2 separate regions of the Homo sapiens genome follow, and region 1 is linked to region 2. Evidence: fine-mapped expression QTL. Tissue or cell type: whole blood. Region 2 holds a variant in brackets; the other region holds the start of a gene. All regions are shown on one strand. Distances are from middle to middle.

Region 1 (5,634 bases), 180 kb before region 2:
ACTTATACTCTGCCAGTTCCAGCCCCCCACCTTTTAAAAATTTTATGTTCCAACATTCAGTGCTGTCCATTCTGCAATTTGCTAAACTAGACAGTATTTTTTTCTTCTGGCCCAGTATTCCTGGTCTACAGGTACTTCCTAGAAAAAAAGATAAATGGAGAAATAAAGGTAATAGAAAGAGCCATTTCCAGAACAAGAACAACATGTTTTTGCAGGTTATCTCTCAGCTACCAAGGAAGCAAAACATATTGGCATTTCAATCCTTACAGTACACACTGATCAAATGATTACAATTATAGAAGTGAGCATGTGCTTTTGAGATTTCCAGACATAAGAAAAAAATATGGCCGGTACTTTAGGTCGTTCAAGATATTTCTTGCATCACTTCCAGCAGGTTATCATGGTTGAGTTGTTCAGCTACACTAGAAAAATATGCTTAGTATAAGCCCTTTCCGTAACTGCCCTTTTACCAGACTTTGTTTCTGCACAGACAGAGGCCTGCCCTGACCCAAATCCTTGGGACTAGCAGGTGAATATTCTGTCTAATATTCTTCCTGGTAATGGCAGTTTACATCGCTCTAAAATGCAAATCTAACTTTATGACCCCCTCATTCAAAATCCCTCCATGGTTCCTGCTTTCAGGATAAAACCAACTCCTAAACAAGGGCGTGCCCAGCCCTTCATGATCCAGCTGTTGCTCCAGCCATTCTTACCTCCCGAGGTCTTCACACAGGCCAGTCTTTTATATATTTATTTTTTAATTGCAGTAAAATATATATAAAACATAAAATACCTAGCACACTCCTACGTATAGACCCCAAAGAACTGAAAACAGGAACTCAAACAGACATTTGTGTATCAATGTTTATTGCAGCTTTAATCAAAATGCTGAAAAAGTAGTAACAGCCCGAGTGTCCATCAACAGAGAATGGAATTTTTTAAATGTGATTTTAACCATTTTGAAGTGTGCAATTCAGTGGCAGTAAAGTACATTCACAGTGTTGTGCAACCATCACCACTATTTGCAAAACCTTTTCATCACCCCAAACAGAAACTCTGTACCAATTAAGCAATAACTCCTCGTTTTCCCCTTCCCCCAGCCCCCAGTAACATCTAATCCACTTTGTCTCTATAAATTTATCCACTAGACATTTCATATAATTGGAATTATGCAATATTTGTCCTTTTGTGTCTAGCTTATTTCAATTAGTATTATGTTTTCCAGGGCCATCCATGTTGTAGCACATATCAGAACTTCATTCCTTTTCATGGCTGAATAATATTCCATTGTGTGTATATACCACATTTTGCTTATCTACTCATCCATCAATGGACACTTAGTTGTTTCCACCTTTTGGCTACTGTGAATAACATCATAATGAACATTCAACACTCAATGCTGCAAAGAACATTCATCCTATTTATGTCCCAGTTCCTTTTGGTAAATACCTTAGAGTAAGCTTGTCCAACCCGTGGCCCAGGACAGCTTTGAATGAGGCCCAACACAAATTCATAAACTTTCTTAAAACATTATGAGATTTTTTTTGTTTTTGTTTTTGTTTTTGCTCATCAGCTGTTGTTAGTGTTAGTGTATTTTATGTGTGGCCCAAGACAATTCTTCTTCCAATGTGGCCCAGGGAAGCCAAAAGATTGGACCCCTCTGGCATTGACTATGCCAGCCTTTCCCCTAGCATACCCCATCCTCACAAGCCGAGTGTCTTTGCCCAGCTTATTCCCTCTCTAGAAAGTTCTTCTCCCAATTTACTTGCCCAGCAAGTTCTGAATCGTTTTCCAGTTTTCAGCTCAAGCTGTTACTTTCTCTCTGATGTTGTCCCTGACGGCCCCAGCCAGCTTCCAGCACTGCATCCTCTATGCTGGCACCCTGGCACGTGTCGCATCCTCTATGCTGGCACCCTGGCACGTGTCACAACCTCTGTTTAGTCTAGTCACAACCTAGGACTGTAAGCCAGTGTTGGCTTCTTTTGATCACACTTTCTGGGAGTGTGTGATGAACGAAAATAAAGAATTTATCATAGTGTCTGGTACAAAGGCCAGCTCTTCTTGTCATCTATTGTAATATGAGCTCAAAAACTGCTTTTTGAATCTAAGTAGTAAAATTCCAGTGCCCTTTGCCTCTGGGGCCTACAAAAACTCTACCACTTTTCAGAGCCTACTATACGAAACATGGATTTTTTTTTTTTTTGAGACTTAGTCTCACTCTGTCGCTCAGACTGGAGTGCAGTGGCGAGATCTCTGCCACAGTGGAGCTCTGCAAGCTCCGCCTCCCGGGTTCACGCCATTCTCCTGCCTCAGTCTCCCGAGTAGCTGGGACTACAGGCGCCCACCACCAAGCCCGGCTAATTTTTTGTATTTTTTAGTAGAGAAGGGGTTTCACCCTGTTAGCCAGGATGGTCTCAATCTCCTGACCTTGTGATCCACCCGCCTCGGCCTCCCAAAGTGCTGGGATTACAGAAGTGAGCCACCGCGCCTGGCCCAAAACATGGAATATTTAGGATTCTTGGCTTCCTTCCTGAAGCAAAGATGCATACGTCACTCACCTTTCAACTATGTCATGAATTGCCCTCTGTCTGGGGAGCTGGTAGGAGAAAGGTTACAGCTCCCATTAGTCCTGTGTTACTTGCTGAACTGCGAGGGCTGCTCTGGAAAGGAGTTTCAAGTGCAGCCTCACAATAAGACCCGAGGCTGGCCTGAAGCCAGACCCTAAAGAGGACAAAGCTGCCGGCTCCCGGGTTTTGCAGCCTTCGCTGAACCCCAGGAATCCACGCAGCTCTCAGAACCCAGACAGGACATTAACAAAGTCACTCTTTACAAAGCCCCAGTGTGCTAAAGAAAATAAGAGTCCTGGTTCTGCTGCTGTGTGGCTCTGAATTCAACTTCTTTATCCACAAGAGTGCTTGAGAGCATTGGAGAGAATTGGGGAAAATAGCATCTGCAATGCCCCCACAACTCTTTCTTTCTTTCTTTCTTTTTTTGATTCGGAGTCTCGCTCTGTTGCCCAGGCTGGAGTGCAGTGGCGCAATCCTGGCTCACTGCAACTTCCACCTCCCGGGTTCAAGCTATTCTCCTGCCTCAGCCTCCTGAGTAGCTGGGATTACAGGTGCGCGCCACTACGCCCGGCTAATTTTTGTTTTTTTGTTTGTTTGTTTGTTTTTAGTAGAGACGCGGTTTCACCATGTTGGTCAGGCTGGTCTCGAACTCCTGACCTCAGGTAATGCACCCGCCTCGGCCTCCCAAAGTGCTGGGATTACAAGCGTGAGCCACCGCGCCCGAAGGTATTCGTTGAACTGCTGTCATTACTATTATGAGCTCCGCCTTGGTGCGCTCTTGGAGGGCTGGACTCTACAGTTCAGCTTTCTCCAAGATCTCAAGAAAGTCACTCAAAATAGCGACTGGGAACCAACCTCTTCAAGCTAGCCGCCTCCACTAAATGGAGATTAAGAAGTTTGCTCACTGGCAGACACCTGGGAGCGATACCACACCTCAGCAGGAGCACATGACGCCAAAGAGCCAGTGGGAGGTGGAGATCCGCCCACCCCGGGAAAACGGGTCCACGCGCTCAGAGTCCCAGAGCCCTGGGGTCTGATGCTGGGGGGTGAGGGTTCCTTTTTCTCTTTGGCCTTGTCTCACCCAACTCCCAGTTTCTTTGTAATAGGAGGAAGGACCTGTTAGCAGACTCTGCAGACCTCCCCTGCGCTCCTCCCTTCTCACCCCCTTGCCCCGAGCCGGATCAGCGCTGCCCCGCGCCGGCGCTTGGCCGTACCTGTCCCGCAGGTTGCCGCTGCGCAGCCCCATGGCCGTGCACTCCGCCTCGCTCACCGGCACCCCCTTGCAGGATTTCACAGGGTAGATCCAGAGCTGCGCCACTGTGCCCACCTGCTGCAGCAGCCGCCGGCGCCGCGTGGGCCATGCGCGGCGCCAGGCGACAGCCCCCAGCGCCACCGCGGTCAGGCCCAGCGCGGCAACCCCGAGCCACCCGGGCCGGGATTGCGCGAGGAGGACAAAGCGCGCCAGCGCGGAGGAGCCGGCGGCGCCCATGGCTGGCTTCTCCGCGAGGTGGCGGCGGCAAGGCCGGAGCGCGCTGGTCGCCCGGGGCCGCTGGGGGAAGGTGCGGCCTTTGGCCCCGAGCCCAAAGGCTGGGCAGCTCCTGAACCCTTCCGGGCCAATCAGAGCAGTGCGTCCTTCTGGGGGGCGGCGCGGGGAGTGGGAGGTGGTGGCTCAGCTTCCACTTGGTCGGCGCCCCACTGCCTCTGCAACCTTCCGTCGCCTGCGCTGCAGGGCGCTGTGCCCTCCCCCACCCCACGATCGCTGCAAGTGACCAATTTATTTACTTACGTATTTATGGGGTTATTTGACCTAAAATAAACAATATACAACATTTGCAGGACAAAGCGTGATTTTGAAATTAGAAATCAGACAGCTGGCAGCAGCCTCTCCTGGGAATAGTGGAGAGCTGGTAGGCCCTGCCTGGCCTGTGCAGTGTCCAGCTCTCTGCTGCCGCCGCCCTCCCCTCAGTCTGCCCAGGGGCTAGGAGCTTCCAGAGAGTGGGGGTCTGATGAAGGAGGATGCTACCAGGCCCTCCGCGCCGGCGAGCCAAGGCCAGAGTTCTCCCGGCGGCCCCTGGGAGCGGCAATGGGCGTCTGAGAGTGCCTTCTACACGGCTCGGGGACGCTCGACTCCTACCGGCGGGGAGCCTCGAGCTGGAGCTGCATTGGCAAGGGCCTTGGCTCAGTTTAACGCTGCACAAGGTCCCCGGGCTGCTTCCGGCGGGAGGGAAAGTCACTTGGTCCTGCAGGCACTCACCTCAGTCACTTGTCACTTCCAAATCAGGTTATATTCCAGACAACAATGTTAGCATACCCCGAACAGCGTGGTTTAGGAGTCAGGCTCCTGCTTGATGTACCAAGCTATTAAAGGAAAAAAATTCCCTCAGACGCTTGTTAAAAAGGTAAGGAAGACTATTCAAGGCTACTGTAACAGGGGCATCACAATAGGGGAAAGAGATTAGGCTCAACTCTGTATTACAGCAAAGACAGCTCAGGATTCATAGCCAAGGAGCGAAGTTCCTCGGGGTCAGTGAATGGAAAATCACTAAGCGGAGACATCAAGTGTAGAGGATTCTTGATAAACCCACTTAACAGGATTCTACTGAACAAGGCAAGGACTTACACACTGAGGGTGACATATGAGGAATCTGAGCAGACATCAAGGGTGATCAGATATTAAGGATGGGAGAATACTCTGGAAACTGACTAAGCAGGATTCTTGCTAAACTGGGCTCTGCAGGGAGTAGGGTGGCAAGGTCAAGGCCTCATGAAGAAAAGGGCACAGGAGAGTCCGAAGTTTGGTCAAGGAGAGTCTGTGTTATCCCCAGCTCAGCCATGGTCCCCTGAGCCAGGAGTGTACATTGCAAGACTCAGCCAGAATTGCCCATGCAGGGCAAGGGTGCATGGATGAGAAGCGGGAGTTCGCCAAGAGAAAAGAACAACACTCTTCCTCCAGCTGGCAACTCACTGCAGAGCAGTTCAGTGCTCAGGGAGGCTCTGTCTTTATTGGCCTGAACACTTATCTGTCCTGTTTTTCTGCTCTATTCTCTTCTCTTCCAACCCCAGGTCA
Region 2 (7,656 bases):
GAGGTCGAGGTTGCAGTATGCCATGTTCACACCACTGCACACCAACCTGGATAACAGAGTGAGACTCTGTCTCAAAAACAACAAACAAACAAACAAACAGACCAACCGACCAAACAAACAAAATAAACCCCACAAAACCAAACCAAACCAAAAATCATTTAAAGAAAAGGAGGTGGAAAAATGGTGACAGTGGGAGTCAAATCTTGACAAATAGGTTGGTCAAAGTCATGAATTCAAAACTAGGCAGGTACTGCAGAACCACTAGATGTTCTTGGGCAGGGTGACTGGGAATGATTATAATCAATTTGAAGTATGATTCCCCAAAATACAGAAGGTTCTAATGATGAAAATTTGTAGTATTAGTTTTCTTAAGCAATATGCTTCAAAATTCTAATACCCAATTTTCACTGAATTATGTTCATTAGCCAAAAGATACATACATTTATATGTATATTTTATTAGACATACTATATAGGTTATAGTATGTTCATATTATAAGATTATTTCGTATCATGAGTGCCAGAAATTTGCTGATAATTACATTATCTTTTGTTAGTCACATGTTTGTATGAGCCACTGAAGGTATGCAACAGATAATAATTTGGTTACCAAACATGATCAGAGGCCATGCAACTCATGTCAGACAGAATGGTCTCTATGAAAACAGTTCTATAAGTACTTCTGGAATCAAACATTTCCTGAGCCTCAAAGCATCAAGAATGCAAAGATAATTACAAAGAATCCTCTGCATTAAGCATGTGTTCTCCCCAAATTCTATGAACTCTGAGCTATCAGTCAAATGTGGTAGTTTATTATAGTATTACCACATTTGCTTAGCAGGGAACAATTTCTGCCATGAAAGAAGTTCTGCCTTCTGACTCAATGCAAGAATCCCCCTCCACAAGCCCAATTTTTACTGCATTATTTTACAGCTAGACCTTCCCATCTCAAACCATTCTGTACTTCCATAAATAGGATATCGGAACTTCCCTATGAGCCTTCTATTAATGGATCCTGAAAACATGATTTACTGTCAGCTGGGTACTGACGGTAAGACCACACACATCAGTGTTTTCCATTGAGGTGGAGTTATCACGGTTACTTTGCAATTGTTAATACTTATAAGTGGTAGACTTGATATTGCAAGAATTGAATCAATATTACGACTTTTTTTTTTCTGTAGGCTCAAGTCTTAAGGGATGTAAAAGCATTGTATGGGCAATGGCTGCTCAGTGGTCTTAAACTGCCCAAGTGTCTTTGGTATTTCTAAGAGTAAGGTCAAGGATGTATATACATTTATTATTGTTGACACAGTATTAATACATACATTCTTTCACTGTTAAAATAAAAAAGCAAATAAAAGTAAATGTATATTCATTAAGTCCATAAGAGTTTAAATCAAATCCATAAATAAAAGTAAGCTCCTCAAAAATAAATTTAAGTATAAATTTATCTGTAGTCAGGTAACTACAAAATAATGTATGTGTGTGCATGTGTGTATGTATGTTTACATATCTCTGGTTTGTAAAAATGTGAGTTAGTAACTTTTTTAGTTTTGGGAAAACATATATAGATACTAAATACATTTAAAATTTATAGTAAATAAATACATTATAAAGAAAATATTTGCCATTGTTTTACAATTTATATAGCATTCATTTGGCACTCAGTCTCTGCAATGTAAAGAATATGAAGATGATTTCAAAATATTACAGACTTTATTTAAAAAACCAAGCCAATTTTAGTAATTATTTGTATCTCTATTAAAATACCTATGTCCCAACCTCTTATCCTGCTCTCGCTCACCAGCAAAGATGGAAAGCTCTTTAAAATAGCAGGCATTTCCAACTTCTCTAATTCCATATAGTACCCAGTACAATTTTCTACATCTATCAAAAAATAAGTAAAACTAGCTGCCTTAAAAAATAAGTAGCAATAATCTTTAAAATATACATTAGGATTCTAATGGGAATATTTAACGCAAATTGGAACTTTCTTGCTGGTCTGCTACTAACAAAAGCTACTGTGACTGATATTAAATGAATAATACTTAAAACGATGTGTGTGGCTGGGCACAGTGGCTCACGCCTATAATCCCAGCACTTTGGGAGGCCGATGTGGGCAGATCACCTGAGGTCAGGAGTTCAAGACCAGCTTGGCCAACATGCTGAAACCCCATCTCTACTAAAAATACAAAAATTAGCTGGGCGTGGTGGTGTGTGCCTGTAATCCCAGCTACTTGGGAGGCTGAGGTAGGAGAATCGCTTGAACCCAGGAGGCGGAGGTTGCAGCGAGACAAGATAGCGCCACTGCACTCTAGCCTGGGTGACAGAGCAAGACTCTGTCTCAAAAAAATAAAATAAAAATAAAAAATAAATAAATAAAATAAATACATGTCGAGGGACATTCCAAGAAGGCCGAACAGGAAGACCTCTGGTCTGCAGCTCCCAGCATGATCATCCCAGAAGACAGGTGATTTCTATATTTCCAACTGAGGTACCTGGTTCATCTCACTGGGACTGGCTGGACAGTGGGTGCAGCCCACGGAGGGCGAGCTGAAGCAGGGCAGGGAGGCACGAGGGGTTGGGGTATTTCCCTTTCCTAGCCAAAGGAAGCCGTGACAGACTACCTGGAAAAACGGGACACTCCCCACCCAAATACTACGCTTTTCCCAAGGTCTTAGCAACCAGCAGACAAGGTGATTCTCTCCCGTGCCTGGCTTGGCGGGTCCTACGCCCACGGAGCCTTGCTCACCGCTAGCACAACAGTCTGAGATTGATCTGCGAGGCAGCAGCCTGGCTGGGGGAGGGGAATTTGCCAATGCTGAGGCTTGAGTAGGTAAACAAAGCAGCCAGGAAGCTTGAACTGGGTGGAGCCCACCGCAGCCCAACTAGGCCTACTGCCTCTAGACTCCATCTCTGTGGGCAGGGCATGGTTGAACAAAAGGCAGCAGGCAACTTCTGCAGACTTAAATGTCCCTGTCTGACAGCTCCGAAGAGAGCAGTGGTTCTCCCAGCATGGTGTTTGAGCTCTGAAAATGGACAGACTGCCTCCTCAAGTGGGTCCGTGACCC[C/T]CATGTAGCCTAACTGGGAGACACCTCCCAGTAGGGGCTGACAGACACCTCATATAGGTGGCTGCCCCTCTGGGACGAAGCTTCCAGAGGAAAGATCAGGCAGCAATATTCTCTGTTCTGTAATATTTGCTGTTCTGCAGCCTCCACTGGTGATACCCAGGCAAACAGGGTCTGGAGTGGAACTCCAGCAAACTCCAACAGACCTGCAGCTGAGGAACCTGACTGTTAGAAGGAAAACTAACAAACAGAAAGGAATAGCATCAACATCAACCAAAAGGTCATCTACATAAAAACCCCCATCTGTAGGTCACCAACATCAAAGACCAAAGGTAGATAAAACCACAAAGATGGGGAGAAACCAGAGCGGAAAAGCTGAAAATTCTAAAAATCAGAACACCTCTTCTCCTCCAAAGGATCGCAGCTCCTTGCCAGCAACAGAACAAAGCTGGACGGAGAACGACTTTGACAAGTTGACAGAAGTAGGCTTCAGAAGGTCTGTAATAACAAACTTCTCCAAACTAAAGGAGGATGTTTGAACCCATCACAAGGAAGCTAAAAACCCTGAAAAAAGATTAGACGAATGGCTAAGTAGAATAAACAGTGTAGAGAAGACCTTAAATGACCTGATGGAGCTGAAAACCATGGTGCGAGAACTTCGTGATGCAAGCACAAGCTTCAATAGCCGATTCGATCAAGTGGAAGAAAGGCTATCAGTGACTGAAGATCAAATTAGTGAAATAAAGCGAGAAGATAAGGTTAGAGAAAAAAGAGTAGAAAGAAATGAACAAAGCCTCCAAGAAATACGGGACTGTGTGAAAACACCAAATCTACATTTCACTGGTGTACCTGAAAGTGACAGGGAGAATGGAACCAAGTTGGAAAACACTCTTTAGGATATTATCCAGGAGAACTTCCCCAACCTAGCAAGGCAGGCCAACATTCAAATTCAGGAAATACAGAGAACATCCAAAGATACTCCTTGAGAAGAACAACCCCAAGACACATAATTGTCAGATTCACCAAGGTTGAAATGAAGGAAAAAGTGTTAAGGGGAGCCAGAGAGAAAGGTTGAGTTACCTACAAAGGGAAGCCCATCAGACTAACAGAGGATCTCTTGGCACAAACCTTACAAGCTAGAAGAAAGTGGGGGCCAATATTCAACATTCTTAAAGAATTTTCAACCCAGAATTTCATATTCAGCCAAACTAAGCTTCATAAGTGAAGGAGAAATAAAATCCTTTACAGACAAGCAAATGCTGAGAGATTTTGTCACCACCAGGCCTGCCTTACAATAGCTCCTGAAGGAAGCAGTAAACATGGAAAGAAACAACTGGTACCAGCCACTACAAAAACATGCCACATTGTAAAGACCATCGATGCTATGAAGAAACTGCATCAATTATTGGGCAAAATAACCAGCAAACGTTGTAATGACAGGAGCAAATTCACACCTAACAATATTAACCTGAAATGTAAATGGGCTAAATGCCCCAATTAAAAGACACAGAGTGGCAAATTGGATAAAGAGTCAAGACCCATCAGTGTGCTGTATTCAGGAGACCCATCTCATGTGCAGAGACACACATAGGCTCAAAATAAAGGGATGGAGGAAGATCTACCAAGCAAATGGAAAACAAAAAAAAGCAGGGGTTGCAATCCTAGTCTCTGATAAAACAAACTTTAAACTGACAAAGATCAAAAGAGACAAAGAAGGCCATTACATAATGGTAAAGGGATCAATTCAACAAGAAGAGCTAACTATCCTAAATATATATTCATCCAATACAGGAGCACCCAGATTCATAAAGCAAGTCCTTACAGACCTACAAAGAGACTTAAGACTCCCACACAATAATAATGGGAGACTTTAACACCCCACTGTCAATATTAGACAGATCAATGAGACAGGTTAACAAGGATATCCAGGACTTGAACTCAGCTCTGCATCAAGCAGACCTAACAGACATCTACAGAACTCTCCACCCCAAATCAACAGAATATACATTCTTCTCAGCATCACTTTGCACTTATTCCAAAACCGTCCACATACTTGGAAGTAAAGCACTCCTCAGCAAATGTAAAAGAACAGAAATCACAACAAACTGTCTCTCAGACCACAGTGCAATCAAATTAGAACTCAGGATTAAGAAACTCACTCAAAACCGCACAACTACATGGGAACTGAACAACCTGCTCCTGAATGACTATTGGGTGAATAACAAAATGAAGGCAGAAATAAAGATGTTCTTTGAAACCAATGAGAACAAAGACACAACATACCAGAATCTCTGGGACACATTTAAAGCAGTGTGTAGAGGGAATGTGTAGCACTAAATGCCCACAAGAGAAAGCATGAAAGATCTAAAATCGACACCCTAACCTCACAATTAAAAGAACTAGAGAAGCAAGAGGAAACACTTTCAAAAGCTAGCAGAAGGCAAGAAATAACTAAGATCAGAGCAGGATTGAAGGAGATTGAGACATAAAAAAACCCTTCAAAAAAATCAATGAATCCAGGAGCTGGTTTTTTGAAAAGATCAACAAAATTGATAGACCAGTAGCAAGACTAATAAAGAAGAAAAGAGAGAAGAATCAAATAGATGCCATAAAAAATGATAAAGGGGATATCACCATTGATCCCACAGAAATGCAAACTACCATCAGAGAATACTATAAACACCTCTATGCAAATAAACCAGAAAATCTAGAAGAAATGGATAAATTCCTGGACACATACACTCTTCCAAGACTAAACGAGGAGTACGTTGAATCTCTGAATAGACCAATAACAGGCTCTGAAATTGAGGCAATAATTAATAGCCTAGCAACCAAAAAAAGTCCGGGACCAGATGGATTAACAGCCAAATTCTACCAGAGGTACAAAGAGGAGCTGGTACCATTCCTTCTGAAACTATTCCAATCAATAGAAAAAGAGGGAATCCTCCCTAACTCATTTTATGAGGCCAACATCATCCTGATACCAAAGCCTGGCAGAGACACAACAAACAAAGAGAATTTTAGACCAATATCCCTGAAGAACATCAATGCAAAAATCCTCAATAAAATACTGGCAAACCAAATCCAGCAGCACATCAAAAGGCTTATCCACCACAATGCAGTCAGCTTCATCCCTGGGATGCAAGGCCAGTTCAATATACGCAAATCAATAAACGTAATCCATCACATAAACAACAAACAATGAAAACCACGATTATCTCAATAGATGCAGAAAAGGCCTTTGACAAAATTCAACAGCCCTTCATGCTAAAAACTCTCGATAAACCAGGTATTGATGGAACGTATCTCAAAATAATAAGAGCTATTTATGACAAACCCACAGCCAATATCATCATACTGAATGGGCAAAAACTGGAAGCATTCCCCATACTCAATGGGCAAAAACTGGAAGCATTCCCTTTGAAAACCGGCACACGACAGGGATGTCCTCTCACCACTCCTATTCAACATAGTGTTGGAAGTTCTGGCCAGGGCAATCAGGCAAGAAAAAAAAATAAAGGGTGTTCAATTAGGAAATGAGGAAGTCAAGAGGTCCCTGTTTGCAGATGACATGATTGTAAATTTAGAAAATCCCATCATCTCAGCCCAAAATCTCCTTAAGCTGATAAGCAACTTCAGCAAAGTATCAGGATACAAAATGAATGTGCAAAAAATCACAAGCATTCCTATACACCAATAACAGACAAACAGAGAGCCAAATCATGAATGAACTCTCATTCACAATTGCTACAAAGAGAATAAAATACCTAGGAATCCAACTTACAAGGGACGTGAAGGACCTCTTCAAGGAGAACAACAAACCACTGCTCAACGAAATAAAAGAGGACACAAACAAATGGAAGAATATTCCATGCTCACGGATAGGAAGAATCAATATTGTGAAAATGGCTATGCTACCCAAGGTAATTTATAGATTCAATGCCATCCCCATCAAGCTACCAATAACTTTCTTCACAGAATTTGAAAAAACTACTTTAAAATTCATATGGAACCAAAAAAGAGCCTGCATTGTGAAGACAATCCTAAGCAAAAAGAACAAACCTGGAGGCATCATGCTACCTGATTTCAGACTATACTACAAGGCTACAGTAACTGAAAGAGCATGGTACTGGTACCAAAACAGAAATACAGACCAATGGAACAGAACAGAGGCCTCAGAAATAATGCCGCACATCTACAACCATCTGATCTTTGACAAACCTGACAAAAACAAGAAATGGGGAAAGGATTCCCTATTTAATAAATGGTGCTGGGAAAACTGGCTAGCCATATGTAGAAAGCTGAAACTGGATCCCTTCCTTACACCTTACACAAAAATTGAAGATGGATTAAAGACTTAAATGCTAGACCTAAAACCATAAAAGCCCTAGAAGAAAATCTAGGCAATACCATTAAGGACATAGGCATGGGCAAGGACTTCATGACTAAAACACCAAAAGCAATGGCAACAAAAGCCAAAATAGACAAATTAGGATCTAATTAAACTAAAAAGCTTCTGCACGGCAAAAGAAACTACCATCAGAGTGAACAGGCAACCTACAGAATGGGAGAAAAGTTTTGCAATC

Evidence for each region. PIP is the estimated chance that this variant, and not a neighbour inherited with it, causes the effect.
Region 1: it holds the start of MTARC1, and the variant in region 2 is fine-mapped to the expression of MTARC1 in whole blood (TOPMed, PIP above 0.99).

Annotation. Positions count from the first base shown.
Region 1 is chr1:220,785,367-220,791,000 of GRCh38, reverse strand. It overlaps MTARC1 (mitochondrial amidoxime reducing component 1), which reads right to left and starts at 4,088. Exons shown (of 7, transcript NM_022746.4): 1 at 3,782-4,088. The coding sequence starts at 4,056.
Region 2 is chr1:220,606,443-220,614,098 of GRCh38, reverse strand. The region is part of intron 6 of MARK1 (microtubule affinity regulating kinase 1); the gene reads right to left. Among named protein-coding and RNA genes, the nearest start is that of C1orf115, 80 kb to the left of the region's middle. The variant C/T (reference allele first, on the strand shown) is at 3,074.